Homo sapiens: one gene and its partners. The protein of the gene in region 3 purifies or fractionates together with the protein of the main gene of each other region. This does not show direct contact. Each region holds a gene or a part of one and is shown on either strand. Other genes may lie near its edges. The genes, in order: IVNS1ABP, TCF25, PRKCG and PCK2.

Region 1 (7,801 bases), on a different chromosome or scaffold from region 3:
TGTCTGATGCAAATTGCCCCAAAAATTCTCCAGTGTTTTCTCCAAGGGCTGCAGTAATTTTAACCATTTTTTTCCAAAATAAATTTTAGGTAGATCATTCAATTTGTCAAATATAGTAAGTGGATACCATTTTTATTTTTTGTTAGATCAAGTTTACAAGTAAAAAGTGAGTAAAACTGGTCAAAGTTTAAAATAGTACCTTCATATTATAATGTTTTTGGCTTTTCAGAGGATGCATTTTAATATAACAATTTGCATGGGGACTCCTTCCTCTTATTTTAAGAGCAGCTTATGAAACTGAAGTTAGGAGTTGCCAACTATGCCTGTGAATTGACCATGCCAGTATAAATCATATATATATGAAAATTTTCTTAGTTTGAGCCAGGTCTTGGCTGAAAATGTTTGAAGGTTTCTTTAGGATAGTGTGTTCTCTCTGTGTAGAAAGAATTATGTATATTTGGAAAACATTTGTTAGAACTAGTTTCTTAGAGAAAAGCCAAATTAACTAACCTAGATAAAAGGTAGAGCAGAGGAAATCAATATTACCTAATGCTGTGATATAGTTTTGATGCAAGGGTAAGCATTCACAACAATCCCAACCCGAATTGGCATTATTGGGTTTCCTTGAAATGAAACCTGTTACAGAGAGACCTGTTAGGACACATGTTGAACTAAACATAGTAGGTTTGTTGAATTCGAACTGGACCAGCCTGCAGTGGAGTCCTGTGGTAAGTGATTATTCACTTTGACGTAATTGTTAGATTTAGAATTGTTGTATTGATGTATAAGGCAAATAATCTTAAGATATCCATAAAAATGAATATATTTGCACGTATTTCAGGTAAGTTATTCCTTAGTTCTGGTTTCCAGAGTTAATAGTGGTGTAATAGCAGTTCAGGTGATTACAAAATAAGTACCATCAGAATTTGACACTAGTAATTGATGATGTGAAAATGAGGGAGGGAGAATAGGTAGGAGGACTGATTACCTTGAAGATTAGGTTTGAACCAGAATGATTCCATTGGTAGTTTATTACTGTGTATGAGAAAAATGATTATACAAAGCACAGGCATCAGTATTTTCCCTTCTGTTTAGTTTATTCCAACAAATTACTCATCTTTATGTTCAAGTTTTTAGGCTAGTCCTGGTAGAGAGGAGATGGGATGGATACAAAAGATGAACAAGACAGAAGGTTTGCCCATGAGTCAAGGAAGATAAACAAGTATATATAAATACAGCATGAATATAAATACAGCATGAAACAGACCAGCTGGAAGATCATAAATACCCCTCAGATAGGGTTCTAAATGTGGAGGATGAGGAGAAACTGCTTCCCAACTGGGAGCATTTGGCAGAGGCTCTATGGCTGTAAGATTTCCTCTGGCAGAGGTTGGGTTAAGGGCCTTCCAGGTAGAGAGAAGAACTTGAACAAAGTTAACAGAGCCTGGGAAGTGCAGAGTTCATTTTGAGGAACAGTAACATAGTATATATGCTTGGGAATAATGCCTAAGGTTGCTTGCTGGCTCAAAACAGATCTCATGTTTGCATATTAGTTGGAAATTAATAATAAAGAATATTAGAATTAAACAGTATTGACATTTGTTTTGTAGTCTTGTGCTTTTATACCTCTCATAAACATAGGTCATTAGCCCCTGCCCTTTGGGAAAGGACTTTTTTTTTTTTTTTTAATCACTTGGGTTGTTGCAAGTTAAATGAAAAATGTTTATGTGGAATTGCATTTGTGTTCTTTTTTTATGTAATGGGAATATTTTTGCCATTTATGTCAAATCTCTTGAAGATCAGGACTTGTTTTACATGATCTGCTCTACCTAGATCAATGACAGTCTTTGATTATTCTGAATATCTAACTTAAATTTATCATTGTTATAGATTATGATGCATCATTATCACAGAAGAAATTCGTGTCTATAGCTTTTAAGGACTTGATTACATCATTTTCAAGCCTGATAGTTTTGGAATCACCATTAGAGCTTAAGACACACCTGCCTTCATTTCAACCACCTGTCTTCATACCCTGACGAAGTGCACCTTTTAACACTCCTTTGTCCTTGGATTACTTAAGAGTTCCCAGAAATACATTTGCCACCAACAGAGTAGGTAAGTGAATGTTCTCTGCCTAGTCCAGTATTAAGACACATTGTTTTTCTGAAGACGGATGTCGAGTACAGTAAACCTTTCATACTCTTTTTTTAAAGGCAGAGAAGTCAGTAATCATTTGAGTATAAAAAACATCATATTTTTCTTTTCTATATTTTGACTTTAAATAAATCAGTAACTTCAAATTAAAATTTCTTACTGCCTTTTTTTTTTTCCTTAAAGAGATAAGATCTCTGTTGTCCAGGCTGGAGTGCAGTGGTGGGATCATAGCTCACTGCAGCCTGGAACTCCTGGGCTCAAGTGCTTCTCCTGCCTCAGCCTTCCTAGTAACTGGGACTACAGGTGTGCGCCACCACCATGACTGCCTAATTTTTACATTTTTTGTAGAGACAGGATTTCACTATGTTTCCCAGACTGGTCTCAAACTCCTGGGCTCAAGCAATCTTCTTGCCTTGGCCTCCCTATTACTGTTCTTTATTTTATTTTATTTTTTTAAGATGGAGTCTCTCTGTTGCCCAGGCTGGAGTACAGTGGCACAATCTCAGCTGACTGCAACCTTTGCCTCCCAAGCAATTCTCCTGCCTCAGCCCCCACAAGTAGCTGGGATTACAGGCGCCCGCCACCATGCCTGGCTAAATTTTGTATTTTTAGTAGAGATAGGGTTTCACCATGTTGGCCAGGCTGGTCTTGAACTCCTGACCTCAAATGATCCACCTGTCTCGGCCTCCCAAAGTGCTGGGATTACAGGTGTGAGCCATAGCGCCCAGCCTATCACTGTTTTTTAATTATGCATTTTGTGTAGTCATTAGTCAGTTGTTTATAAGTAATGGTAAAATGCAAAAAAGTTGTAAGTTCCCATTTATATTTATATAATCTGATGAGATAAGTGATTTAGAATATATGAAAGAAAGGAACAGAATATAAGTTCATCTTTTTAAATCACTGTATATGTTTCAAAACATTTATAAAAATAATTTCGTAGATACAGTGACAAGACTAATCAGACTTTTTAAGTTTGTGTACTAGGCAAGGGAGGAAGACATTAGGCAATTTTCTGCATATAAATCTTGATTATATATAATTTTGAAGACTAGAAGCAAATTGGGGGCCCTTTAAGACAACTGAAAAAGGCTAGGATTAGGATAAGTAACAGTTTTTCTCATTTGTGGGTAAAGGAATGACAGGAGCCCAAATCCAAGGAAACCTATATGTACTGGCTATTTCACCCTTTCAGGCTTTTAGATTACTTATTATATGGGTTTGGGCAGGATGGAGTTTCGTTTCCTTCCCTTCCCTTCCCTTCAGAATGAATTTGCTTAATGGGCATGGGAACCTGGCCAAAATTGTCGAGATAGCTGCTACTGTTTGAATCCTTTAAAAGTCTTATGACCAAAGTATTAGGGAACAAAGACTTGGACATTCAACACAGGTGTTGTTTCAGCTAAGTTTTTGTGTGATGAAATTTTTATGTGTTGTTTATAGGATGGAATTTGAGAATAAAGAGACTGTATTACTCTTTAGCATTATATTTTTAAAACCATCAGTTGCAAGTAAAATAACTCAGCTTTCTTTTCATCATCTAGCCAAATTTATAAGGAAAAATGATTCCCAATGGATATTTGATGTTTGAGGATGAAAATTTTATTGAGTCTTCTGTTGCCAAATTAAATGCCCTGAGGAAAAGTGGCCAGTTCTGTGATGTTCGACTTCAGGTATTTAAAACTTAATTCAAAATTTATAGAATTTTTTATTACTAAAAGCCATAAGTTCTTAGATTTGCTTATTTCTTTTTCATAGGCATTTAATGAAATGATTTTTTAAAAGAATACTGAGAAATGTAAGATAAAGGAATCTGATATAGTAATTAGCTAGAGAAGCACATAATCCACAATACTTATAATTATAATTCTTCATAATTTCAGGTCTGTGGCCATGAAATGTTAGCACACAGAGCAGTGCTAGCTTGCTGCAGTCCCTATTTATTTGAAATCTTTAATAGTGATAGTGATCCTCATGGAATTTCTCACGTTAAATTTGATGATCTCAATCCAGAAGCTGTTGAAGTCTTGTTGAATTATGCCTACACTGCTCAGTAAGTACATTTGAAGTAAACCATATAATTAGGGAATATCTTCAGAAAATTCCAAGTCTTGCTACATATATTTAAATTAAGTGTGTTTTAAGGCTTTGGTATCATAAGTAACTTTTTTTTTAAATAGGTTGAAAGCAGATAAGGAATTGGTAAAAGATGTTTATTCTGCAGCAAAAAAGCTGAAGATGGATCGAGTAAAGCAGGTAGAGTATCAGAAGTAAATAAAATCATTTATGGAGTCTTATTTTGTGTGATTGCAATGCTGAATTTGTCATAAAACATCTTGTTAGTTTCAAGGACTTGAACATGTCCCTTTTTTCCCTCAGAGTAGTCAATATGTTATTTTAACTGTTTGGCTATAATAATGTAGCAAGATCACACTTCTTCTCAGATAATTTGGGCTGAAGTCTGACCCTTTCAGCAATCTTCTCTGGTAGGGTGGCTATGTCAGCCTTTGATAGCATGAATTAAAATTAATATTTTTCTTAAGAGTTAATCACATAACTTATATCCTCAATTCTGTGTTCTCCTAAACTTCCTGTGCTCTCTAAAAGTATTCCTTCTAGAATTTAATGCCAGTAAAAAGTACTTTTGGAAAACAGGCATTTAATCCCCTAATGCATGGGGGTCAGTAAACTTAAGGCCTACTGGCCAGCTGCCTATTTTTATAAAGTTTTATTCAAACACAGCCATGTGTGTTCATTTACATATGGTCTACACTGCTTTCCAGCTACAGTGACGGAATTGAGCAGTTGTGACAAACAGAATGGCCTACAAGCCTAAAATGCTTTTACTATCTGGCCCTTTAAGAAAAAGTTTGATTTGCTAGCCCTTCTTCTAATACCACTCCTTTGTTCAAAAATCCTTCCTTAATTTACAGTACATATCCCTGCATTTAGTTTCTAGATTTTCCCTTATATAGTTGCTGTCTTTCCAAAACTATTTCCTAGTTATCTTTTCTCCAACCAAATTAAATTGTTTGCAGCATCTTCTCTACTTCTGTCTGCATTCAACATCAACATCATCTCTCCTGTAGAGCCCAGTTCAGATACTGCGTTTCATGAAGCCTTACCAAATTATTCTACTTGAAAATACTTATGTGAACTTACATAGCATTTCAATTTGTTGTACCTCTCCTTAAACTAAAACTTACATATCTGTATGGCATAATTAGATGTTTATCATTTGTATACGTGTTATTACCACTATTAACATTTGTTGTATTAAGACAGTGATTTTTGATTCTTTGTATCTTCACATAGTCTTTACCACACTGAACATTAAATATTTGTTGAATAAAAGATATGTAAGTGTTGGCACTCATATATTTCTTTTCCAAGGTTTGTGGTGATTATTTACTGTCTAGAATGGATGTTACCAGCTGCATCTCTTACCGAAATTTTGCAAGTTGTATGGGAGACTCCCGTTTGTTGAATAAGGTTGATGCTTATATTCAGGAGCATTTGTTACAAATTTCTGAAGAGGAGGAGTTTCTTAAGCTTCCAAGGCTAAAGGTAAGGAGTAAAGTCTATAAACAGATATATACTATCTAGTTCCAGGCGTGGAATCTTGGTCTGTGTTTCAAGCAAGTGAGTAATGATTATGAAATAATACATTGAAATTATATTGTTATTCTTAGCAGCGTAATGGGTTTCTCCCTACCAGTTTGTTTACTTTGTTTTTGATTCAGTAATCAAATTCCTTACAAATTCCTGGTTCCTTACAAATTCCTGGTTCCTTACAAATTAGAGTAAATGTATGGAATGAATTGTGCATCTGTGACAACTTTATTATGAAATTGGGAATTAAGCTGAGAACTAGGAGCCCAACACTGATCCATGTCATTGTTTTTCCCAATTCTAGTTGGAGGTAATGCTTGAAGATAATGTTTGCTTGCCCAGCAATGGCAAATTATATACAAAGGTAATCAACTGGGTGCAGCGTAGCATCTGGGAGAATGGAGACAGTCTGGAAGAGCTGATGGAAGAGGTTAGTTTTAAAGTAAATGGGATTCAACCATTTTTAAAAATTATTTTGCTATAACATGAAGGATTCCCTTTCACTTTTATTTTATAACCATGACCCTAAAGAATTTAAATTTTGCTATAGGTACCCCTAAGCTGAGAAACAGGGGGGGTGTCCAGGTGAGCTGAATGAACTGTTCAGTTTGGTCTTCTGCTTTTCTTTTTTTATTTCTTTGCTTATTATGTGCTGTTAACTTTCTTTAAAGTAGCATGTAATTTGCTTTAGAAATGGGAAGTGGTACTGAAATTTTCTGTAGATTCTTAATTTTTCTTCACAGGTTTTTGCTTTAAATTTGACAAGTAGGTAAAAGCTTCTAATGGTTGTTCCTCCCCATTGATTTATCTCCCCATAGGTTTATTAACAAAACTAGGATACCCAAGACTGAAGAAACAAGAAGAAACCTCAAGTGTATTGACACGTAAAGAAGCAGCAGTCCTGCCCCAGTTCTCCTAAGAAAAATCCGCTGTGGGCAGAGAACGATGATGATTTAATGGTGTTTACTCCTTTACAGGATTCTTGTCTTTAAAGCTGTGTGTTTTTCAATGGTGTTGTTCATACATATAGTCACTCACTTAACTTGGGCTACTTTTAAAAAAAATACACAAGATAAAATTGATGGAGAAATGGTGGGAATTGAAAACACGCAGGTGGAGCAGTGGAGTAACCTTGAGTTTCTCTCTCCACTTAAACCTTTCGGAGTTCCTTTATGAGGGCTTACCAAATCTGTTAGGCCTGCAGAAACACTGTCATCATTATGGTCTAAAAGGGCTAACAGATTATCTTTAAATTCTATGATTCCCACTTGAAAGTCAGATGCATTTGCCATGTATTTGCATCTGTCTCAATGGAGATGACTCTACAGCTTGCTTGAATTTTTGCATTTGTTTTTTCTTTGTTTTTCTTGACATTGCTTACAGGAAGGAAATATGTTTATGCAAACCAGACCACTTATCTGCAAAGGTGTAAACTATATTCAGTATTTTATTGTAAATATGTATATTCTTTAAGAGTATATATTGTACTAGTGCTTTTTTTCTTACTGTTATATGATAGAAGCTATGAAAAAAATGAAGATTTCTTTCAAGCCAATCAAGCCAACGACTCTTCAGCCAGTATTGGAAGATTTTGTATTTGATTTTGGTTTTTTGTTTTTGTTTTTTAATTTTTACCACCATGACATGTATTTTTCTTTACCTCCGGATCCTGCCAGAGTAATATGTCAAGAAGCTCAAGAAGCACACTGGAGGTTACCTTGAGGCGTTTGTGTAATCTGCATACTAGTGGAGTAGCCATGGTGACCGTAGCCACATGGGTGTTCTGTTGCTGTTTTGCAGGTTCAAACCTTGTACTACTCAGCTGATCACAAGCTGCTTGATGGGAACCTACTAGATGGACAGGCTGAGGTGTTTGGCAGTGATGATGACCACATTCAGTTTGTGCAGGTACACATTGCACAGTCTGAGGTAACCTCAGGTTAAAATTTGACTAGAGAATTTGATAGCATACTTAAATTTTCCTTTAATAAAGGAAAGTGGACCAATTTCATTGGTATAACTGGACAGAAAC
Region 2 (7,801 bases), on a different chromosome or scaffold from region 3:
AACACGGATTTTTGGTTTGAAAGGCAGCTTCCAGGCCTTTCTCTAAAATCACCACCCCAACCACAGCTGAGGCCTCGCCACTGCGGGCACCATGGGGAAGCTGCCGTCACTGTGCCGTGAGGGCGCTCGGTGAGTGCTGTGTCAAGAGGCACTGTGTGTGGCACACGTCTGTTTCTGAGGCTGAGTCGGGGCAGTGCACGCACCCTGGGACTACACTACTGCGTCTTAACTGACTCCACGGAGCTTTTTTTTTTTTAAGCTGGCAATAATTTCTGAAGTAGGGACAGCGATTCATTAAGCATCTGTAAGACCAAGAGATGAATTAATCATCCAAGGATGACAGGGTAAGGAGGAACTTTTTGACCAGACGTGGTGGTTCACACCTGTAATTCCAGCATTTTGGGAGACTGAGGCAAGAGAATCTCCTGAGCCCAGGAGGTCGAGGCTGCAGTGGGCTATGATCACACCACTGAACTCCAGCCTGGGTGATAGAGAGATCCTGTCTCTTAAAAAAAAGAAAAAGAAGGAACTCTCTAATATACATAAGAAGTAAAACTAGAAGTTCTCTGAAATATGGATGACTTCCTTTCCTCCTTGTTCCTATTTCCTTTTGTCGGGAGACAGAGTCTCGCTGTATCACCCAGGCTGGAGTGCAGTGGCGCGATCTCGATCTCGGCTCACTGCAACCTCTGCCTCCCGGGTTCAAGCGATTCTCCTGCCTCAGCCTCCTGAGTGGCTGGGATTACAGGCACCCACCACCACATCCAGCTAATTTTTGTATTTTTTTTTTCTTTTTTTTGAGACGGAGTTTTGCTCGTTGCCCAGGCTGGAGTGCAGTGGCACAATCTCAGCTCACCGCAACCTCCGCCTCCCAGGTTCAAGCAATTTTCTGGCCTCAGCCCCCTGAGTAGCTGGGATTACAGGCATGCGCCACCACGCCTGGCTAATTTTGTACTTTTACTAGAGATGGGGTTTCTCCATCTTGGTCAGGCTGGTCTCAAACTCCTGACCTCAGGTGATCTGCCCACCTCAGCCTCCCAAAGTGCTGGGATTACAGGCGTGAGCCACCGGGCCCGGCCTATTTCCTAAATGAGTAATAACAAACTCATATTATTATTATTATTATTTTTTTGAGACACAGTCTCGCAGTGTTGCCCAGGCTGGAGTGCAGTGGCACAATCTCGACTCACTGCAAGCTCCACCTATTGGGTTCACGCCATTCTCCTGCCTCAGCCTCCCGAGTAGCTGGGACTATAAGGCGCCCGCTACCACGCCCAGCTAATTTTTTGTATTTTTAGTAGAGAGGGGGTTTCACCATGTTAGCCAGGATGGTCTCGATCTCCTGACCTCATGATCCGCCTGCCTTGGCCTCCCAAAGTGCTGGGATTACAGGCGTGAGCCACCACGCCCAGCCAATAAACTCATATGATTTTTAAATAAAGACAGTACATTTTATTTTTCCTTTTTTAGAGAACCTTTTCCTCCCACGAAGTCTCTGTGGCAGCCACAGAGAAGGGCAGCCGCAGAGAAGGGCAGCCGCAGAGAAGGGCAGCCGCAGAGAAGGGCAGCCGCAGAGAAGGGCGGGGGCCACACCTGTGCTCCACGTAGAGAACGTGCTTCCTGGAGCTCAGGGGAGCTGGGCCGGGACGGTTCAACCCAGTGCTGTCCTCAATCCTCTCTAGGATGCGATCGATATCTTCTAGTCCGTTTTCCTAAAAGCCCCAAAACAACCTCTTAATCACCACACTGACATTATTTTAAATATTGTAACAATAACAAAATTATTTATCTTAAAAGAGACCTATTACACTGTATTTACTTCCTAAAGGACAGCATAAGTCAAACACTATGTACCATCCACACATTTAGAAAAAAGAAGAGATGTTTCCTAAGAAGCGCTCAGCATAGACAGAATCACAGAACCAGAAGGACCCTAGAAAAAACTGGGCATTCCACATCACACTGGTGTGCTCACCTCCTCAGGCAAACAGGGTTGGGACTTGTGGCTCCAACTAAACGGCAACAAAGCTACACCCTTGTCTCAGGACACAGTCAGACGAGGACGAAGGGCAATGATGAAAACATATTTTTTTCTGATGACAGACTAGCTCCAGTGGAGGGTTCTGTACCCACCATGCAATTAACCCATAAGCATGGGACAGATGTCAGGGCAAACAGCAAGTGTCCCACGGGTCACAGGAGCACCAGAACTAGAAGGGATGTCCCCATCAGATCACACATTCCCACAGAGACACAGAGCAGAGCGCCAACCAGTCGAGGAACAAGGGTAAAAACAAGAAGCAGCATTTAGAAAGTAACTTTCCCTTTTCTTTTTCCCTGATCTCTTAGTTATACTCCTAATAGGAAGGAATAAAAATACTAAGTAAGCTTCTTTCAACACCACCTTGGAAAACAGCCAGAAGAGAATGGAGAGAGCGTCAGGCAGAGGGAGAGGGCGTCAGGCAGAGGGAGAGGGCGTCAGGCAGAGGGAGAGGGCGTCAGGCAGAGGGAGAGGGGCGTCAGGCAGAGGGAGAGGGCGTCAGGCAGAGGGAGAGGGCGTCAGGCAGACGGAGAGGGCGTCAGACAGAGGGAGAGGGGCGTCAGGCAGAGGGAGAGGGCGTCAGGCAGAGGGAGAGGGCGTCAGGCAGAGGGAGAGGGGCGTCAGGCAGAGGGAGAGGGGCGTCAGGCAGAGGGAGAGGGCGTCAGGCAGACGGAGGGCGTCAGACAGAGGGAGAGGGCGTCAGGCAGAGGGAGAGGGCGTCAGGCAGAGGGAGAGGGCGTCAGGCAGAGGGAGAGGGCGTCAGACAGAGGGAGAGGGCGTCAGGCAGAGGGAGAGGGCGTCAGGCAGAGGGAGAGGGGCGTCAGGCAGAGGGACAGAGCACAGCCAGGCCCAACTCACGTACCGATGCTTCTCCCGTGCTGCTTTTCTTGTTTTTCTGTTTTTTTTTCTTCTTCCGGAGTTTGCCACTTGCATGAGACTAATGATAGAAACACATTTTCATCAGTAGAATGAGAAGTAAATCTTAAGAAGTGAGAATTAAAGCAGCAAGCGTGACTCCACCCTCACCTAAGCAGCCCCTACCTCTCCCTCCGTGTCCCAAAAGTTCCTTCAACTCACTCTCTTCTCTCCAGCAGGCACCTTCCCACCTCTCCGAGCCCCTCGGGCTGTGCTACAGCAGTCCCCAGGGCCTTCTGTGTCCAGCCTCACAGGCTCACAGGACCCTGACCAGGTCCAGCTCTCATTCCTCCCTGTGTCGGCCACTCCCTGCCACACTGCAGCCACCCTGAAGACGGGGGCCTTGCTGTGCCCTGGCCGCCTCACACCGCACCTGTATGTGTGGTCCCCTACGCCTGCACCTGGCCAACCCCTTCTGACAGTAGGAAGGCTCCTCAGGAAGCCCCCAGGACCCTGAGCCTCAAGTCAGGACCCACCTGTCACTTCACATGTATGTTGCCCTCCCAACCAGAGGCTCCTGGGGGGCAAAGGCACGTTCCCAGCACCCAGCAAGCTCCCAAGAACACTTGTTGGATAAATGAACACAAGCTCTCCTTTTAGGGCCCCTCTTCTGTGCTGTGGAGCACAGCAGCAGGCTGTCTGCATCTCTGCCCATCCCACGTTAACCTGACCTGCATGTTTCTTCAAAGTTCACTTACACCAGCACCCAGATCCACAACCCAGCCAAGCAAACGTTCGGGGCACAGTTAGGAAGGACACACGTGCGCGGTCGGCTAGGAGGCACACACGTGCGCGGTCGGCTAGGAGGGACACACGTGCGCGGTTGGCTAGGAGGGACACACGTGTGCGGTTACATACACTGCTGGGCAGGCGCAGACTCTCCTGAGATGCAGGAGAAAGGCCTGCGACCTTCACTCATTTCATGCAAATCTCATCAAGGTTCCCAAGTAAATTTGGGGGCAACTAGCAGGTAACCAAAATGGAACTCGGAAAATTACACCTCCAAGGAAAATCACAGCACAGGATACACGTGGCTGGGTGCCTTGGAACTCTCCCGTCTGATGCCACCTCCTCACCACTCAGCCCCCCACCTGCTCTGAGGGCACTGTCTCGGTGTCATCTCCATCCGTCTTGCTCTCTGTGTTTCCACGCTGACCCCTTCCTTTGTTCCCTGGTGCCACAGCGTCTGTGAGCGCACAGCCAGACCTCTCCCCGTTCACCACAGGGTCATCCTCAAGATCGTCAATGTTTATCTGGAAAAACAGGTTGGAGAAGAGCCAGGGCGTTACTTACAGTGTGAACGCTCATGCTGAGATATGAATAGTGAGATGTGAACGGGCTTGCGTTGGGGACCCCCAGGGTCAGTGCGAGACGCTGGACGGGAAAGATGCAAGAACCCGAGACTGTTGGACACAGCAGTGACTCAGCTCTGGCTCAGGGGGACTTTGTCAGCAGCTCTACAGAAAGCCGGGGCCCCGAGGCTATGGGGTATCTCTGCCTTCAGAGATGAGGTAAGGAAGACTCCTCAAATATTGTAATTTACTCCATTTACAGAGGACCATCTGCAGGACAAAACGTTAAATATATATATTCAGCCAATGCATTAAAGTTCCTTCTTCCTCCTTTCTCCTCAAGCCTCAGCTCCTCTCCAGCAGCAGGCAGGAAAAAAAGGCACCAAGGACCCATCAACCTACAAACTTTTCCTAATGAAAATGATAGGCCAGGCGAGGTGCTCGCGCCTGTGATCCCAGCACTTTGGGAGGTTGATGCAGGCGGATCACTTGAGGTCAGGAGTTCAAGACCAGCCTGGCCAACATGGCGAAACCCTGTCTCTACTAAAAACACAAAAATTAGCCAGGCACAGTGGCAGGAGCCTGTAATCCCAGCTACTTGGGAGGCTGAAGTGGTATAATCGTTTGAACCCGGGAGGCAGAGGTTGCTGTGAGTCAAGATCGCACCACTACCCTCCAGCCTGGGCAACAGAGCAAGACTCCATCTCAAAATAGAAAAACAAAATGACATACGATAAAAATAATTCATACGATGAAACCTTCTCTCTCTCTTTTTGAGACAGAGTCTCGCTCTGTCATCCAGGCTGCAGTGCAGCAGTGTGATCTTGGCTCACTGCAGCCTTGGCCTCCTGGGTTCAAGCATCCTCCTGCCTCAGCCTCCCAAGTAGCTGGAACTACAGGCGTGAGCTACCATGCCTGGCTAATTTTTTAAATTTTTTTGTAGAGATGGGGGTCTCAACACATTGCCCAGGCTGGTCTTGAGCTCCTGACCTCAAGCGATCCTCCTGCCTCAGCCTCCCAAAGAGCTGGAGTTACAGGCGTGAGCCACCACGCCAAGTCTGGAACCTTTTTATAGCAGTGAGAATGAATGAATGAATGAACCACCACTGAACACACAATATGGATGAATCTTAGGAGTATAATATTAAATGGATAAAACCTCACAACATACATTCACATACAGATTGGAGGGGAGACAGGCAGTGGGAGAAGGGTAAGAACAGGAAAAGTTCTGGCTCCTCAGCTAGTGAGAGGCTGACCGGGCACGGTGGCGGTGCACCCCTGTAATCCCAGCACTTTGGGAGGCCGAGGTGGGTGGATCACGAGGTCAGCAATTCAAGACCAGCCTGACCAACATGGTGAAATCCCGTCTCTACTGAAAATAAAAAAATCGGCCAGGTGCAGTGGCGCGTGCCTGTAATCCCAGCTACTCGGGAGGCCGAGGCAGGAGAATTGCTTGAATCCGGGAGGCAGAGGTTGCAGCGAGCCAAGATTATGCCACTGCACTCCAGCCTGGGTGATAAGGCGAGATTCCATTTCAAGAAAACAAAAAAAAAAGAGGCTAACAGATTGGGTGTGGTGGCTCATGCCTATAATCCCAGCGCTTTGGGAGGCTGAGGCAGGAGGATCATCTGAGCCCAGGAGCTTGAAACCAGCCTAGGCAATACAGTGAGACCCCATCTCTACAAAAAATTAGCAGGGTGTGGTGGCACACACCTCTTGAGTCCCAGCTACTCAGGCGGCTGAGGAGGACTGCGTGAGCCCAGCAGTCCTGGAATCTGGAACCTGGAGTGAGCCATGATCACACAACGGCACTCCAGCGTGGGCAACAGAGCAAGACTCTAGCTCTAAATTTTTTAAAAAAAAAGCTAACAGAGACCAGCATCAACAATTCTTTATGAACTAGGAGATTCTGATGGATCCAATCGGATGCACTAAGGTTCAAAAATAAATAAAACTGCCTGTTTAATTTAAAACATCTTGAAAACCACAAACCTCAGAAAACACAATCAGCTCCAAGCCCCATAGCCCTGAGATAGTTTCTGAAACAGAATTGAGACTCGGCTGCACCTGGGAAGACAGACACCCCGGCTGCGGTTGCTGAAGAGAAGAAAGCACAGGGCAGGTCTGTGCTTGCCGGTCAGTCGGCTTTCTCTCCAATGGAGGCTCCCACATGACAAGGATACGATTCAGGAGCATCTTAAACGCCCGCTGAGACAAGTCAGGAGCAACTTACGCCCGTTGAGAAAATCCATGGCAGTATAGACGTGTTATGTAAACAGAGCCCCTAACTTGAAAACACTGACACTCCACCAAAACGAGGTTTGTCCCATCCCAGCAGCACCATGATGGTGATTCTCATGGTGATGCCTCCTTCTGCCTGGCCTTTGCTGGCGAAGCTGGGGCCTAGGCATGGGCCGGCTGCCTTGCACCCTGCAGTAAAGGAAGAAAGCTGAAACAAAGCCTATTGTTGAAATGTTTCTAACCTGTGGGTGGTCACTGGTAAATTGGATCTACACCATCTCCAACATTCAACTAATGATGATGTCTCTTAGTGAAGCTGGGTGCTGGTTTACTTGTCTGTTTTTAGAGATAGGGTCTCACTGTGTTGCCCAGGCTGGCCTCAAATTCCTGTGGTCAAGGGATCCTCCTGCCTCAGCCTCCCCAGGAGCTGGGACTACAGGCACACGCCACAACACCCAATTTACTTTTTTTTTTTTCTTTTTTTGAGATGGAGTCTTGCTCTGTTGCCCAGGCTGGAGAGCAATCGCATGATCTTGGCTCACTGCAACCTCCGCCTCCCGGATTCAAGTGATTCTCCTGCCTCAGCCTCCCGAGTAACTGGGACTACAGGCATGTGCCGCCATGCCAGGCTAATTTTTGTATTTTTAGTACAGATGGGGTTTCATCATGTTGGCCAGGCTGGTCTCGAACTCCTGACCTCAGGTGATCTGCCCGCCTCAGACTCCCAAAGTGCTGGGATTACAGGCGTGAGCCACCGCGCCCGGCCAACACCCAATTTACTTTTATTAACTCATGCTGACTTCCTAAGAAAAAAAATTCTTATTTTGAGGTGTTTGACAAATCGAATTCATAAAAAGCTCTATGCCAAGCTGAACTTCAATGGAAAGGAGCCTGTGTACACGGACAGCACGCGTGATGGGCTCAGGAGCCTGCCTGTGTACACAGACAGCACACATGATAGGCCCGGGAGCCTGTCTGTGTACATGGACAACACGTGTGACAGGCTCTGAAGCCCATCTGTGTACACGGACAGCACGTGTGATGGGCTCAGGAGCCTGCCTGTGTACATGGACAGCACGCGTGATAGTCCTGGGATCCTGACTGTTTACAAAGACAGCACACATGATAGGCCCAGGAGCCTGTCTGTGTACACGGACAACACGTGTGACAGGCTCCGAAGCCCATCTGTGCACACGGACAACACGTGTGACAGGCCCCGAAGCCCATCTGTGCACACGGACAACACGTGTGACAGGCCCCGAAGCCCATCTGTGCACACGGACAACACGTGTGACAGGCCCCGAAGCCC
Region 3 (7,801 bases):
TGGGAGGCCGAAGCGGGTGGATCACCTGAGGTCAGGAGTTCCAGACCAGCCTGGCCAACGTGGCGAAACCCGGTCTCTACTAAAAATACAAAAATCAGCTGAGTGTGGTGGCGGGAGCCTGTAATCCCAGCTACTCAGGAGGCTGAGACGGGAGAATTGCTTAAACCCGGGAGGCGGAGGTTGCAGTGAGCCGAGATCGCGCCATTGCACTCCAGCCTGGGGGACAAGAGCTAACTCCTTCTCAAAAAAAAAAAAAGGAATCAAAGTTGCTCATACATATATTTTAATCCAGGTGGCTGGCCACTCTCATTCGGAGCCCCTGGAAGTAAAGTCACGCCCTCTTAAAATCTTGCAGGTTCTGACTCTCTGCCCCTAAGTCGCAATCCTAAGGAAATAATGTCCTGTTTCTGATGTGTCCTTCAGTCAGAATCCAAAAGTGATGACCCCGTCACTCGGAGCCCAATTCTGGGCAGGCCCACTAGGAAGGCACCCTCCTCCACTGTGCCCCTTTGCTGAAAATTCCAGAGCACTGGCTACAGCCACTCAAGACCAAGCTCCCCAGGGAAACAGGCATCTGGCCACTCCCCCCAAGAGCCCATCCACCTGGCCACGCCCCCAAGGAACTCAACCGCTTCACGACACCTCCGCAGGACCCATTCACCTGGCCAGGCCATGCCACCGAGGAACTCACCGCCTGGCCACGCCCCCGAGGAGCTCATCCGCCCGACCACGCCCTCCGAAGAATCTACCTGCCTGGATACGCTCATTCATAATCTCGTCTGCCTGGCCTCGCCCCCAAGGAGCCAATCTGCCTGGCCACGCCTATTAATGATCCCATCGCCTGACAAAGCCCGCCCCTCTAAACCACCCCCCCAAAGATTTCATCCGCCTGACCACGCCCCGCGAAGAGCCCCTCTGCCTGGCCACGCCCCCGATGAGTCCCTCCACCTGGCCACGCCCCCGAGGAGCCCCTCCACCCGGCCTCGCCTCCGTTGAGCCCCTCCGCCTGGCCACGCCCCCCGATGAGTCCCTTCGCCTGGCCACGCCCCCCAAGGACCCCCCCCCGGCCACGCCCCCTGAGGAGACAATCCGCCTGGCCTCGCCCACTCAGAGAGCACAAAGTTCTCTTGCCTCGCCCTAAACTCAGAATCCCAACGCAGATGTCCAGAACTGGATAAGGCAGGGCCCGGAGGACAGCCTCCGCCCCCTCCATCCTTACCGGGGTCTGGAAGGTGGAGTGGAGCTGGGTGAGGAAGTGGGGCCGGCCGCCAGGACCCCGGCCCCCCAGCGCCAGCACACGTTTCTCCACCAGCGTGCAGTCCACATCGTCGTCCTGGACGATCACGTCCTTTTTCAAGATCTTGATGGCGTAGAGCTCATCAGAGCCCCTGCGCTCGGCCAGCATCACCTATGCGCACAGTTCCAAAAGGGCCAGTCCATGTTGGGAACCCAGTGGTACAGGACCTGCCCCCTCCCTAAGGGACGCAGGGAAACGGGATCCCAGGCCCTTCCTCCATCTCTTAAGGGACTGACAGCCCTGACTTGCCGCCCGTCCCCTCAAGGAGAGTGTCCACATCTGTAAACCTCTCCTCTCCAGGAACCTGAACGGCCCAACCTAACCATATTTGAAGATGCAGGAGCCCAGTCTCTTCCCACCCCCACTTCCTCCCTAAGAACCAGAAATCTGACCTTCCCACAGACATCCTCCCTTTCCCCCAGAACCCCAGGAATCCAACCTTCCCAAAACTGCCTTTTCCTAGAACCATGAGGAAGCTGAAGTCGGAGATGTGCAGGCGTCCTGGACTCGCCCCGAAGAAGCAGCGCTTGGGGTCGGTGGGACTAGGGGAAGGGGAGGGGATGGGAGAGGAAGAGGGGCCCATCCGCACCCGCTGTGGAAAGGAGAAAGAAAGAGCCAGAGGCAGTTAGACCTTACACAGCGATAAGGAAATGCTCCCAAGAGACACAGCACCCAAGAAAGGAAAGGATGAGAATCGCTAGACAGAGGAAAATGGCCACCCTCCTACCCTGTCCTTGGCTTAATTTTCTCTGACTCCCCATAGCCTGGAGGGTTTATTTATTATTCAACAAACACTTAGCTCTTTTTTTCTTCTTTTTTTTTTTTAGATAGCTTATCATATGCTGTTTCCAGAAAACCCTGCTATCGTTTCCATTTTACAGAAGAGGAGACTAGCACAGAGACGTTAAGTAACTTGCCCCAAGTCACACAGCAGGTAAAGGACAGAGCCAGAAATGAAACCCAAGCAGTCCAGCTCTAGAATCTGGTTGCTCTTAGCCTCTAAGCCGGAATTCCCTAGAGGGTTTGGTAAAACAGATTGCTGGGTCCCACTGCCAGATTTTCTAACTCTATAAATCTGGGGTGGGACCTGAGAATCGTTATGTGTAAAAAGCTTCTGGGTGACATGGGTGCTGCCAGTCCAGGGAGCACACCTGGCTTTCAGCTAGGGTCCCTTCTCTACCTTTTCCTGCCTCGGCCCCCCAGGGAGGGGGCCCAAGACTAAGCTGCTGTCACAGCTTCCACACTTGTCCCTCTACATGGACGGCTGCCCTTTCTAATGCATTCTCTACTCAGCAGGCACAGGAGCCAATTTAAAAATAAATAAACCAGGTCATGTCTCCCCTATGCTTGTAAACCCTTTAACTGCTCCCTCTGTGTTAAGATTTTATTCCACATGACTTGCAGAGCCAGGCTGAGACTGACACTGCAGGTTGTTCTTCTCTCTCCCAGGCTCCATGGTCCAGCCACCCTGGCCTGACACTCATTGTCCTCCCTCCCACCTCAGGGCCTCTGGATGTGCCGTTAGGTCTTCCTGTAAAGCTCTCCCCTCCCCTTCCCTCCTAGTTGTCTCCCAAACACCCTTTAGACCTTGACTCAAGCATCACTTCATAGAGGCCTCGCCTGACTTTTTAAACTGGGTCAGATGCCTCTCTTACCACCCCTTGGTCACCATGGACAGCACCTTCCTGGCACTTTTATTCTTAGTAATTTACATCTATCTGTGTGACTATCTGCTTTCTGCCTGTGAGCTCCCTAAGGCAGGGGTCTGCTTTGTTCGCTAAGACACAGTAACACTGCCTACCTCATTGAGGCTACATAAATATTTGTTGAGGGCTGGGTGCGGTGGCTCATGCCTGTAATCCCAGCACTTTGGGAGGCCGAGGTGGGCAGATCACCTGAGGTCAGGAGTTCAAGACCAGCCTGGCCAACATGGCGAAGCCCCATCTCTACTAGCAATATAAAAATTAGTAGGACATGGTGGCACATGCCTGTAGTCCCAGCTACTTGGGAGGCCAAGGCAGGAGAATCGCTTGAACCCGGGAGGCAGAGGTTGCAGTGAGCTGAGATCGCTCCACTGCATTCCAGCCTGGGCGACAGAGCGAGACTGTGTCTCAAATAGATAAATACATAATAATAATAATAATAATAATAATAATAATAATAATAATAATAATCAGGGCTGTTTCTGTTTGCTGTGTTGTTAGCCCCGTACCTAGCTCAAGGCTTGGCACAGAGTTGGTGTTCATTGGTAATATTAAGTGGTGCCTGCTGAACTGTGGGAGAGTGCTGTGAGCCACAACAGGCACACACACCACCCTACACTCCCTGCCTCTAGGCCTTTGCCCACCATCTGCCCTGCTGGGTTTCTTGGGTTTGTACGGGAGGATCATCCCTGCTGATCTCAAAAGACTCTACCTCTTTGGCTCAGAATGTCCTCCCGCTGGTACCCTTGTCTCCTGCAGAGCCCATTCTCTCTTTTTTTTTTTTTTCTGAGATAGAGTCTCGCTCTGTCACCCAGGCTGTAGTGCAGTGGCACGATCTCGGCTCATTGCAAGCTCCACCTCCCAGGTTCATGCCATTCTCCTGCCTCAGCCTCCTGAGTACCTGGGACTACAGGCACCCACCACCACGCCCAGCTAATTTTTTTGTATTTTTAGTAGAGACGGGGATTCACCGTGTTAGCCAGGATGGTCTCGATCTCCTGACCTCGTGATCCACCCGCCTTGGCCTCCCAAAGTGCTGGGATGACAGGCGTGAGCCACTGCGCCCGGCCGCAGAGCCCATTCTCAAACTTAACTTTGCAAAAGGATCACCTGAGGAATTAATTTAGTAGGCAGACATTTGAGGCATCAGAGAGATCGTCACTGAGTAGGTCTGCAGAAAGGCTGGGGAATGTGCTTTTAAAAGCAAGCACTCTAGGAATTCTGATGCAGGTGAACCCCCACACACAACATTAAAAACTCTGGTGAAAGTTTCTGTAAGAGTCCAGTAAAGACTATAACATGTTGTTGCTGTTGTTGAATCTTGAAGATTCTTGTCTTCTTTTTTTTTTTTTTTTTTTTTGAGACAGAGTCTCCCTCTGTCATCCAGGCTGGAGTGCAGTGGAGCGATCTGGGCTCACTGCAGCCTCTACTTCCCGGAATCCAGCAATTCTCCTGCCTCAGCCTTCCGAGTAGCTGGGATTACAGGCGCCTCCACCATGCCCAGCTGATTTTTGTATTTTTTAGTAGAGATGGGGTTTTGCCACGCTGGCCAGGCTGGTCTCAAACTCCTGACCTCAGGTGATCCGCCCGCCTTACTAGGATCACAGACATGAGGCATCGTGCCCAGTCTATCATATGCTTATATATTTTGTTTAATGTCTTCCTCCCGGTGTAAATCCCATAAGGAAAGGAACTTTTTTGTTTGTTTGTTTGTTCTTTCCCTGCTTTCTCTATATCCCCAGTGAGTAGAGCCACGCCTGGCACACAAAGATGCTCTGTAAAGTATTTTTTGAAAGGGTAAATGAGGGAGAGAGCATTACTTCCTCCTGCCTGAAAATCTGGTCTCTCCTTTGGGAAATCCCGCCCTTCTACCAGGTCTCACCTCTCTAGGAAGCTTTCTCTGACTCAGGCTGTGCCAGGGACGCCCCAGTGCCTGAGGCTGTCTCCATTACAGCAGCATTGCTCCTCGTTGTGAATGTCTGGGTTTGTAACTTTGTCCTCCACTAGAAGAAGAGCTCCACCAGGGAATGGCCTGATTCTATTCCCAGAACAGGGCCTGGCTTATGACACCCTAGAAAATGGGTATTCGTCTGGGCGTGGTCGCTCACGCCTCTAATCTCAGCGCTTTGGGAGGCCAAGGCGGGTGGATCACTTGAGGTCAGGAGTTCGAGACCAGCCTGGCCAACATGTCGAAACCCCATCTCTACTAAAAATACAAAAATTAGCCAGGTGTGGTGGTGCGCTCCTGTAATCCCAACTACTCAGGAGGCTGAGGCAGGAGAATCACTTGAATCTGGGAGGCAGAGGTTGCAGTGAGCTGAGACTGCATCACTGCACTCCAACCTGGGTGACAAAAGGAGATTCTGTCTCAAAAAAAAAAAGAAAGAAAGAAAGAAAGAAAAAGAAGGATATTCAGTGAGTGAATGAATGAATGGAGAGATTAAGATGATCATGCTTGATAGATTTTTTAAAACTCAAGAATCGGCTGGGTGTGGTGGCTCACGCCTGTAATCCCAGCACTTTGGGAGGCTGAGGCGGGTGGATCACCAGGTCAGGAGATCGAGACCATCCTGGCTAACACGGTGAAACCCCATCTCTACTAAAAATACAAAAAATTAGCCGGGCATGGTGGTGGGCGCCTGTAGTCCCAGCTACTCAGGAGGCTGATGCAGGAGAATGGCGTGAACCCAGGAGGCGGAGCTTGCAGTGAGCCGAGATCGCACCACTGCACTCCAGCCTGGGCGTCACAGCGAGACTCCGTCTCAAAAAAAAAATAAAAAACTCAAGAATCGGTCGGGCGCAGTGGCTCATGCCTGTAATCCCAGCACTTTGGGAGGCCAAGGCAGGCGGATCACCTGAGTTTGGGAGTTTGAGATCAGCCTGGCCAACATGGCGAAATCCCATCTCTACTAAAAATAAAAAAAAAATTAGCTGGGTGTGGTGGCGGTCACCTGTAATCCCAGCTACTCAGGAGGCTGAGGCAAGAGAATTGCTTGAACCCGGGAGCTGGAGGTTGCAGTGAGGCGAGATTGTGCCATTGCACTCCAGCCTGGGCGACAGAAATAAAAATAAAAATAAAAATAAAAATAAATTAAAAAATTTTAAAAAACCTCAAGAATCAATTCAGGCGTCACCTCCTCAGGGAAGTCCTCCCTGACCACCCTCCCCCAGGCTGGATTAGTGCCTCCGTTAGGCCTCTTCAGTGCCCTGGGCTACCTCTAATTTAGCACATCTTCCTGTATTTTAAGTATCTGTGACTGTGTCCCTACCTTGGAGAGTTGCTTGAGGGTCAGATTCATCTCTGGATCCTGGATTATTCAGCAAGCACAAGACAGGCCTAGCACAAATGTGTGCTCAACTCATGTGTGGGGAATTGAAGACAGAAGTCAGAGGAGGAATAAGAAATCAGAGAAGTAGGCAAAAACTGCCTCCATTCAACGCCCTGGTTCTACTCACCTCATACAATTCCAGGGGGTAGTTACAAGCCTGGGAGAAAAGAAAGAGAGAGTCAGGGTCCCAAGAGATGCAGGGGATCGCCCTAGAACAGGGGCTGGTGGCCCCTAGTACCCTCAAGCCATGGCGATAGATAGGAACTATAATTCCCATCAGACCCTGGGGCTCGAGTCCCCTAGAAGAGCAGAGGAGGGAGTCCTAGGGTCTTCTGGGAACTGTAGTCCCAGGACCAGCGGGCACTCAGGGGTGGAAGGAAAGGCCAGCTCTGAACCGTGGGAGGCTGGGCTGGGCTCCCTTGAGGAAGCCAGGGTCTGGGTACCTCAAACTTCTGGAGGAGGCTGCAGTTGTCAGCATCGGCCACCGGCACATTGTAATACTCGCCCTCCTCCTGGTTCAGTAACTTGTACCTGACATACAGACGGAGACCAGAGGCGGGCAGCGGGGATGGGGCACCCATGGGAGAGGCAAAGACATTGGAAGGGAGGAAAGAGACACAGAGAGACGGACACAGAGATGGAAGAGAGAAAGAGTGAGATAAAAAGAGAGGGAGAGGGAGAAAGGGAGGGGAGAAGAAGAGAAGAATAGAGAGAGAGGGGTGTGTGCGTGTGTGTGCGTGTGTGTGTGTGTGTGTGTGTGTGTGTGCGCATGCTGGGAGGCAGAGGGAAGGACAGTGGCCTGGAGGAGAGAGACCACACACAGATGGAGATGGTAATATTGCGCTCCATCCCCAGGCCCCAGCCCTGCTCCTCACCAGCCATCCACGGGCGCCTTGAGCAGCTCCGAGACGCCAAAGGACATGGCCCCCATGAAGTCGTTGCGGGAGGTCCGGTCCCAGTCCCACACCTCCACGCTGAGCCGGCGCTCCACATCCCCTGGCTTCAGGTTGCTGCAGGAAGGTGGGGTGGATGGGGTGCAGAGCCGAGCTCATGGCTCCCCTCGGTTCCCCATCCTTGGTGCTGGAGGTGGGGGCAAACCCAGCCAGCTGGGGCTCCTCTCCTGCTTTGTCGGTCTCCGACCTCTGACCTTCCCAGCCGGGCTCTCTCTCCAGCTAGGGCTTTGGGGCCTGAAGTAAACCTAGAGAGCTCTTCCTCTCCCTTCCTCCTGCATTCTCCGCCCCTTCCCATCTCTGTCTCTTGTCTCTCGAGATCTCTCTCTCTGAGTCTCTGTACCCTTCTCTCCTCTCTGGGTCTCTATCACTCTGTCTTCCTGTCAACTGATCTCTGTCTCCCTGCCATCCCCCATCTTCTCCCCTCCCTCTCCATCTGTGTCTCTCTTTGGGTTTCTGCCTCTTCTGAGACTCTCTCTTCTCTCTCTCATCTCTGTCTAACTCTAAAGTTGGGGGCTTCAA
Region 4 (7,801 bases), on a different chromosome or scaffold from region 3:
GCATCACCAGCCCTGCAGGGAAGAAGCGCTATGTGGCAGCCGCCTTCCCTAGTGCCTGTGGCAAGACCAACCTGGCTATGATGCGGCCTGCACTGCCAGGCTGGAAAGTGGAGTGTGTGGGGGATGATATTGCTTGGATGAGGTTTGACAGTGAAGGTGAGGGACTCTCAGATCATACTCTTGGTTCTGGCTCTTGTCAGAGCCTCGGGGTCTCCTCTCTAGTGTTCACAATGACTTTGTCAGTGAGAAAGTTTCCTGAACACCCAACCCTGCTCCATTCCTCTGGCAGCCCAGCCACCCGAGAGACAGCCTTTCCTCATCAGATCTTGGGTCCATCTCAGGACAGGGGTGGGTGGAGCAGGACCTTCTTTGGTCTTACATCTCAAGTTTTCCTTGTTTGGTCCTTCCTTTCTTTCACTTCTCCTAACAGGTCGACTCCGGGCCATCAACCCTGAGAACGGCTTCTTTGGGGTTGCCCCTGGTACCTCTGCCACCACCAATCCCAACGCCATGGCTACAATCCAGAGTAACACTATTTTTACCAATGTGGCTGAGACCAGTGATGGTGGCGTGTACTGGGAGGGCATTGACCAGCCTCTTCCACCTGGTGTTACTGTGACCTCCTGGCTGGGCAAACCCTGGAAACCTGGTATGTGCGGTGGGGAAGGTGTGGCACAGCCTCCAGGCCTCAGCACCTTAATGGTGGAAAAGCTTTCTCCACAACCTCCAACCATCTTCTAGGACTGCCAGGAGGCACAGAAGTCATGAACGTTTGCAGTTTCCAGTCCCAGGCAAAATCTCAGTTCATGTCCCAACTCCACCAGTCACTGGTTTTGTGATCTGGCTAAGTTGCTCAACTTCCCTAAGCTTTAGTTTCCACATCAGTTGAATGAGGGTAGTTGTGATAGTACCTATCTCATGAGATTGTTGGAGGATTAAATAGTGCATAAAAAGGGTTTATCACACTGACAAATACACAGTAAATTCTCAATAATAAATACAGGCTGGATTTTTTTTTAATGAAAGGAAAAGGAAGGACTTTTGAACATTCTTACAGAAGGTATTGGGCTCCAAGCACTATCCATAAAGTTTGGCCCATTAGGAAAAGAGGAAAGCTGCCTCCTCTGCTCCAACTCTCCTCCTGCCACTTGGCTCCCACTGTCCCCTGTATAATAACCACTGTCTAAAGGTCAGTATTGTTACCGTCACCCTTCCCCTGTCCCTCCAAAGCATTCACCCCAATCCTTCCTACAAACAAAATCAGGTCAGTGCTTGAGTCTTTCCCAGAAGCTAGTTTCTGAATCCTGTCATTACCCTGGGCGCCTGGGAGTCCCACCTCTCCCTCAGCCCTGCACTCTGGACCTTCAGTATTCTTTCCATGGCCTTCTGCAGTCAGGCAGTCCAGACACCAAGAGGCAGGGGCAAAGAAGAGCATGGGAGGGGAGGCTGGCCTTGTAGTCACTGAAGCCTATATTCAGGTTTGCCAGGCTGGCCTAGCAGTCACCCTCCTTGCTTCATCTAATCACCCTTTATTTTTACTAACACCATCATTAAGCCCCCCTCAGCCTTCCCACCCAACTGAGAAATCCAAGAAACTTTCATCTTTCCCCACAGGCTAGTTCCCCAACCCTTTCATCATCTCCAGATTTGGGGGCATAACTAGGGCATCTTGTCCCCAGCTTCAATTCCCAGAATAATACCCTGTGTTAGGATTCTGCACTGGGTGCTGAAGAAGGATGGCTCTTATCTGCAATGGCGGGCAGAAGCTGGCGGATGGGAGAGGGTGGGGATTTTGGCCCCGTGGCTTCCCCACTCCCCAGGTCTGACCAGCAACCTCCAGCAGAGAAGGCACCATGTCCACTCAGGGGCCACACAGTGGTGCTTCATACATGTGCCACTGACTTAGTCCCAACCCCCCTCCAGGACACCTGAAGGTGCCAAGTGTGACCTGGGCTCCTGAGGTTATCCCTACCCATGTGATATCCCTATCTCTATTTTTCCAGCCCTATCACTTCATCAGGGTCTAAGCAGGGCAGGGAAATCACCAACATGTTGTTAGCTTTAAAATCAATTCCTTGCAGGGCACAGTGACTCACATCTGTAATCCCAGCACTTTGGGAGGCCGAGGCAGTTGGATCACCTGAGGTCAGGAGTTCGAGACCAGCCTGGCAACATGGCAAAACCCCGTCTCCAATAAAATACAAAAATTAGCCAGGCATGGTGGCTCATGCCTGTAATCCCAGCTACTCAGGAGGCAGGAAAATTGCTTGATCCCAGGAGGCAGAGGTTGCAGTGAGACAAGATCATGCCACTGCACTCCAGCCTGGTGACAGAGTGAGACTCCGTCTCATAACTAAATTAATTAAGTAAATAAAATCAGGCCAGGCGCAGTGGCTCATGCCTGTAATCCTACTACTTTGGGAGGCCAAGGTGGGCAGATCAGTTAAGGTCAGGAGTTTGAAACCAGCCTGGCCAACATGGTGAAACCCCATCTCTATTAAAAATACAAAAAAATCAGCCAGGCATGGTGGTGGGTGCCTGTAATCCCAGCTACTGGGGAGGCTGAGGTAGGAGAATTGTTTGAACCTGGGAGGCGGAGGTTGCAGTAAGCCAAGATTGCACCACTGCACTACAGCCTGGGCAACAGAGCAAGACTCTGCCTCAAAAATAAAAAGATAAAATAAATTCCTATTTGCATTTGGATAACTTAGGAGAACCTGTCTTCCCCGGTTTGCTGACGGAAAGTCAATTGTCTGAAGTACTAAGCTGACATTCTCAGTTTTTGCTTTAGGTTTGGGTATTCATTTAAATAATAATCTCACAAATAATGAAATAGTTTCTGGGGGAAAAATTATTATAACCTTATGCCCATATCTAACCCCATTCCCTTGAGCCCTGGTCAGTGCCAAGTGCCAGTAGCTTGGCACAAACATTAGTGCCCTGCCAAACCCCAATTCCTCTCCCACTCTTTTCTCACATAGCTCAGCTGGCCGCACCTTCATGGCTAAACAACCTGAGCTCTTGGAGATGCCCTGGCTCCCCTCTCTCTGCTCCTTATCACACAAGGTTCTAGGCAGCTGATGAGGCAAAAAAAAAAAAAGAACCCTGCAAGAATGTGTGCCCATGTATGTGTGTGTTGGGGGTCGACATGACCTTGGAAATAATAGTGTTTGTATTTCCTCTGCCAGGTGACAAGGAGCCCTGTGCACATCCCAACTCTCGATTTTGTGCCCCGGCTCGCCAGTGCCCCATCATGGACCCAGCCTGGGAGGCCCCAGAGGGTGTCCCCATTGACGCCATCATCTTTGGTGGCCGCAGACCCAAAGGTAAACAACATATGAGCTCCATGTTCTTGGCAAAAGGGCTATCTCTGTATTAGGGCCTACCTCCCTCCCTCTGATCCAGAGCCTCAGCCTGGATCTCACCTTTCTCCAGAGTTCTCCCCTGGTGAATGCAAACTTGGGAGGAGGCAAAGGGTCTGAAAATGGGATAGCCGAGGTCTTAGGAGAGAGAGTACCAGTCAAGCTCACCAGAAGGGCTGGAGTTAGGGTCCAAAGAAAAGGGCTGCCTGTGACTCTGTTCATTGGTGATCTAGGGGTACCCCTGGTATACGAGGCCTTCAACTGGCGTCATGGGGTGTTTGTGGGCAGCGCCATGCGCTCTGAGTCCACTGCTGCAGCAGAACACAAAGGTGAGCACCCTCACCATTCCTCCCTCTCCTGTGTGTGCACACAGCACGTCCTCTCTCCCTTCCTGAGCCAGACCTTCCTTTTGTCCACCCCTGGAGTCTGATATGGCCCCACCTCTTCCCACTTCTATCTTTTCCCCATCCCTGAAGATATTCAGAACCATAAGCCTTTCACAGCTTCCTCCAACTGGATGCAGGGTGCCCTTCCCTACCCCAGTGAGAAGGAAGATTCCTTACCCATCTTGCTTCCCCCCCAGGGAAGATCATCATGCACGACCCATTTGCCATGCGGCCCTTTTTTGGCTACAACTTCGGGCACTACCTGGAACACTGGCTGAGCATGGAAGGGCGCAAGGGGGCCCAGCTGCCCCGTATCTTCCATGTCAACTGGTTCCGGCGTGACGAGGCAGGGCACTTCCTGTGGCCAGGCTTTGGGGAGAATGCTCGGGTGCTAGACTGGATCTGCCGGCGGTTAGAGGGGGAGGACAGTGCCCGAGAGACACCCATTGGGCTGGTGCCAAAGGAAGGAGCCTTGGATCTCAGCGGCCTCAGAGCTATAGACACCACTCAGCTGTTCTCCCTCCCCAAGGACTTCTGGGAACAGGAGGTTCGTGACATTCGGAGCTACCTGACAGAGCAGGTCAACCAGGATCTGCCCAAAGAGGTGTTGGCTGAGCTTGAGGCCCTGGAGAGACGTGTGCACAAAATGTGACCTGAGGCCCTAGTCTAGCAAGAGGACATAGCACCCTCATCTGGGAATAGGGAAGGCACCTTGCAGAAAATATGAGCAATTTGATATTAACTAACATCTTCAATGTGCCATAGACCTTCCCACAAAGACTGTCCAATAATAAGAGATGCTTATCTATTTTACACAAGATTTGTGCTGTTTTCATTTCCCACCTATCTTCACAGGCTTCCCTCTAACACCTGTCTCACAATCATCTTCTTCCAGCCCCTAGAAGAAGCACAGCCTGGCACAATCAAAGATCTGTTTTACAGGTAGCTCTAGCACTGGGTCACAGACATAGGAATTGCTGGGAGAAGGCACTATCCACTCTATGTCCTGAGTTCTTAAAAAAAAAAAAATGGTGAGGCTGGGTGTGGTGGTTCACGCCTGTAATCCCAGCACTTTGGGAGGCTGAGGCGCACAGATCACGAGGTCAGGGGATTGAGACCATCCGGGCTAACACGGTGAAACCCTATCGCTACTAAAAATACAAAAAAAAAAAAAAAATTAACCGGGAGTGGTGGCGGGCGCCTGTAGTCCTAGCTATTTGGGAAGCTGAGGCAGGAGAATGGTGTGAACCCAGGAGGCAGAGGTTGCAGTAAACCAAGGTCGTGCCACTGCACACTCCAGTCTGGGCAACAGAGCGAAACTCCGTCACAAAAAAAAAAAACAAAACAAAACAAAACAAAAAAAAAACTGAGGGCCTCAGCAAGCTGCTCAGTACAGCCCCCAAGCCTAAAATTCCTGATCTCCCACTTAGATTGCAGAAGCCTCTACAACTCCATTCTCCAGTGAAGTGGCTTCATTGTCAGTTCTCGAATTTGTTCTTCCCCCTGCCTGACCTGGCACTGGGAGCTGCATAGTATTCATGGAAGCATATTCAATATTAGGACAGCTAACAACACTTCTGTGGCACCTTCTTTATGCCAGGCACTGCTGAGACCAGCTCTGTCAAGGAGACCCTAACCCAGCAGTGCTAGAGGAATTAAAAACACGCACACAGAAATATAGAGGTGTGGAGTGGGAAATCAGGGGTCTCACAGCCTTCAGAGCTGACAGCCTCGAACAGAGATTTACCCACGTGTTTATTGACAGCAAGTCAGTGATAAGCATTGTTTTTATAGATTAACTAAAAGTATTCCTTACGGGAAACAAAGGGATGGGCCAAAATGAAGAGATGGGCTCTGGCTGGTTATCTGCAGCAGGAGCATGTCCTTAAGGCACAGATCGCTCATGCTATTGTTTATGGTTTAAGAATACCTTTAAGCGGTTTTCTGCCCAGGGTGGGCCATGTGTTCCTTGCCCTCATTCCGGTGAACCCACAACCTTCCAGTGTGGGTGTCATGGCCATCACAAACATGTCACAGTGCTGCAGAGATTTTGCTTATGGCCAGTTTTGGGGCCAGTTTATGGCCAGATTTTGGGGGCCTATTCCCAACAAGGCAGTGTTCTAAGCACATACCTAACAACCCTTTGGGGGAATTACCATTTTACAGATGAAGTAACAAAGGCACAGAGAGGTCAAGTAATTTGTCCAAAGCTTCACAGTTAGTAAACAATAGAGCTAAGGGTTAAAGTGATAAAACTGCAAAGACATGTCTTTCATAGTAGTATAGACATCTACAACTGCAAGGACCTTAGAAGTCACCTATTCCACCGGGCGCAGTGGCTCATGCCTATAATCCCAGCACTTTGGGAGGCCAAGGAGGGCGGATCACCTGAGGTTGGGAGTTCAAGACCAGCGTGGCCAACACGGTGAAACCCCTTCTCTACAAAAATACAAAAATTAGCTGGGCATGATGGCAGGTGCCTGTAATCCCAGCTATTTAGGACAATCACTTGAACTCAGGAGGCAGAGGTTGCAGTAAGCCTAGATCATGCCATTGCACTCCAGCCTGGGGGACAGAGCAAGACTCTGTCTCAAAAAAATAAAAAAATAAAAAGTCACCTATTCCGTGTTTCTCAAACTTAAAAGTGCCTTTGAATCACCTGGAGATCTTGTTAAAATGCAGATTGTCACTCAGCAAGTCTGTAGTAGCCTCAAGATTTTGTTTTCCTTACAAGCTCCTGGGTAATGCTGATGCTGCCGGTCTGCGAACTACAGTTTAGAGTAGCCTAAATTCATCTGAAATAAACTTTGGAGAGTAATCAGGAAAACAGTGCAATGATCTCACATGAGTCAGGGGCATCAGCTTAGGATAACTTCTGTGCAATCTGGATCAGGCTGAGAGAATGTATAACCTAAGGTGGGTAGTGTGGTAGTCTTTACCCAGAAAAAGGGAACAAACTTCAACAAATAAAATGGAATTATTGGGAACTCCCTCAAAGGAAAAAACTAGAAGAGGAAACACCAAGTGTTCTCATAGGAAATGCCAGTGACCAGCCAGAATGTGTAAAAATCTAAAGGTCAGAGTGGAACAGAGGTTAGAACAAAGTTAGCAGTGGAGTATATTGTACTTTAAAACACAGCCAGCCAGGCGCGGTGGCTCACACTTTGGGAGGCCGAGGTGGGCAGATCACCTGAGGTCAGCAGTTTGAGACCAGCTAGACCAACATGGTGAAACCCCATCTCTACTAAAAATACAAAAATTAGCCAGGCATGGTGGCCCATGCCTGTAATTCCAGCTACTCAGGAAGCTGAGGCGGGAGAATCACTTGAAACTGGGAGGCTGAGGTTGCAGTGAGCTGAGATCACACCACTGCACTCCAGCCTAGGCGACAGAGTGAGACTCTGTCTCAAAAAAAAAATAAATAAATAAATAAATTTAAAAATTTAAAAATAATAATAAAACACAGCCAAATCCTTAGCTTCATAAATAGCATATGATAACTGAATACCGTCAAAAGCAACATAGCACAGGTATTAAACACATAGTAGACTTGAGCCAGAGGTGCCTCTCAGTTGCTTCATCTGTAAAATGGAAATGCCTACACTTTACAGTCTTGTTGGGAAGATTAAAAGAGTCAGTGGAATAAAGCACTCAGAACTATGCCTGGCACCGAATAACCATTTAATACATGTTAGCTATCATCACCTTTCCACTTTATAATGATTAGAGTAGGCCCTGTAAGCGTATATTACATATTGCTGACTCTACAGTTTAAAAGGAACATGAGCAATGTAAATAAAATCTAGGAGAGAAAGAAAATAGATTTAAAAATAAATCCCTCCAGCTAAGAGGCAGGGAACTGGGGTTCCAGGCACCTTTCTGGTATCTTCTAAATGCACAGGGACAAGAAAGTGTTAGCCTTAAAAATTATTTTTATTAATTAGAATAAAATGGGGCTGCATGCCCTTCAGCTCCAGATAACTGATAAAATATAGTTAACACATTATAATCTTTTTATTTTAAAATAAAACACAGATACAGAAGACCATCTAA

What was found.
Region 1: the proteins of PRKCG (region 3) and IVNS1ABP purify together in Homo sapiens (affinity purification with mass spectrometry; one large-scale study listed by BioGRID and IntAct). This does not show direct contact.
Region 2: the proteins of PRKCG (region 3) and TCF25 purify together in Homo sapiens (affinity purification with mass spectrometry; one large-scale study listed by BioGRID and IntAct). This does not show direct contact.
Region 4: the proteins of PRKCG (region 3) and PCK2 purify together in Homo sapiens (affinity purification with mass spectrometry; one large-scale study listed by BioGRID and IntAct). This does not show direct contact.

The regions. Positions count from the first base shown.
Region 1 is NC_000001.11:185,305,412-185,313,212, reverse strand, and holds part of IVNS1ABP (influenza virus NS1A-binding protein), read left to right. Parts: exon of another isoform or gene 1-728; intron 729-1,890; 5' UTR 1,891-2,118; intron 2,119-3,701; 5' UTR 3,702-3,719; coding exon 3,720-3,830; intron 3,831-4,040; coding exon 4,041-4,210; intron 4,211-4,337; coding exon 4,338-4,413; intron 4,414-5,550; coding exon 5,551-5,724; intron 5,725-6,073; coding exon 6,074-6,199; intron 6,200-6,585; exon of another isoform or gene 6,586-6,725; coding exon of another isoform or gene 6,726-6,728; intron 6,729-7,569; coding exon 7,570-7,677; intron 7,678-7,801. UniProt on the Homo sapiens protein: Involved in many cell functions, including pre-mRNA splicing, the aryl hydrocarbon receptor (AHR) pathway, F-actin organization and protein ubiquitination.
Region 2 is NC_000016.10:89,879,759-89,887,559, reverse strand, and holds part of TCF25 (ribosome quality control complex subunit TCF25), read right to left. Parts: intron 4,210-7,801; coding exon 4,048-4,209; intron 2,979-4,047; coding exon 2,904-2,978; intron 1,713-2,903; coding exon 1,594-1,712; intron 1-1,593. UniProt on the Homo sapiens protein: Component of the ribosome quality control complex (RQC), a ribosome-associated complex that mediates ubiquitination and extraction of incompletely synthesized nascent chains for proteasomal degradation.
Region 3 is NC_000019.10:53,892,047-53,899,847, reverse strand, and holds part of PRKCG (protein kinase C gamma type), read right to left. Parts: intron 7,340-7,801; coding exon 7,205-7,339; intron 6,861-7,204; coding exon 6,773-6,860; intron 6,487-6,772; coding exon 6,457-6,486; intron 1,890-6,456; coding exon 1,737-1,889; intron 1,409-1,736; coding exon 1,220-1,408; intron 1-1,219. UniProt on the Homo sapiens protein: Calcium-activated, phospholipid- and diacylglycerol (DAG)-dependent serine/threonine-protein kinase that plays diverse roles in neuronal cells and eye tissues, such as regulation of the neuronal receptors GRIA4/GLUR4 and GRIN1/NMDAR1, modulation of receptors and neuronal functions related to sensitivity to opiates, pain and alcohol, mediation of synaptic function and cell survival after ischemia, and inhibition of gap junction activity after oxidative stress.
Region 4 is NC_000014.9:24,099,565-24,107,365, forward strand, and holds the end of PCK2 (phosphoenolpyruvate carboxykinase [GTP], mitochondrial isoform 1 precursor), read left to right. Parts: coding exon 1-156; intron 157-430; coding exon 431-649; coding exon of another isoform or gene 650-741; exon of another isoform or gene 742-1,189; intron 1,190-3,188; coding exon 3,189-3,326; intron 3,327-3,595; coding exon 3,596-3,691; intron 3,692-3,945; coding exon 3,946-4,400; 3' UTR 4,401-4,561; downstream 4,562-7,801. UniProt on the Homo sapiens protein: Mitochondrial phosphoenolpyruvate carboxykinase that catalyzes the conversion of oxaloacetate (OAA) to phosphoenolpyruvate (PEP), the rate-limiting step in the metabolic pathway that produces glucose from lactate and other precursors derived from the citric acid cycle.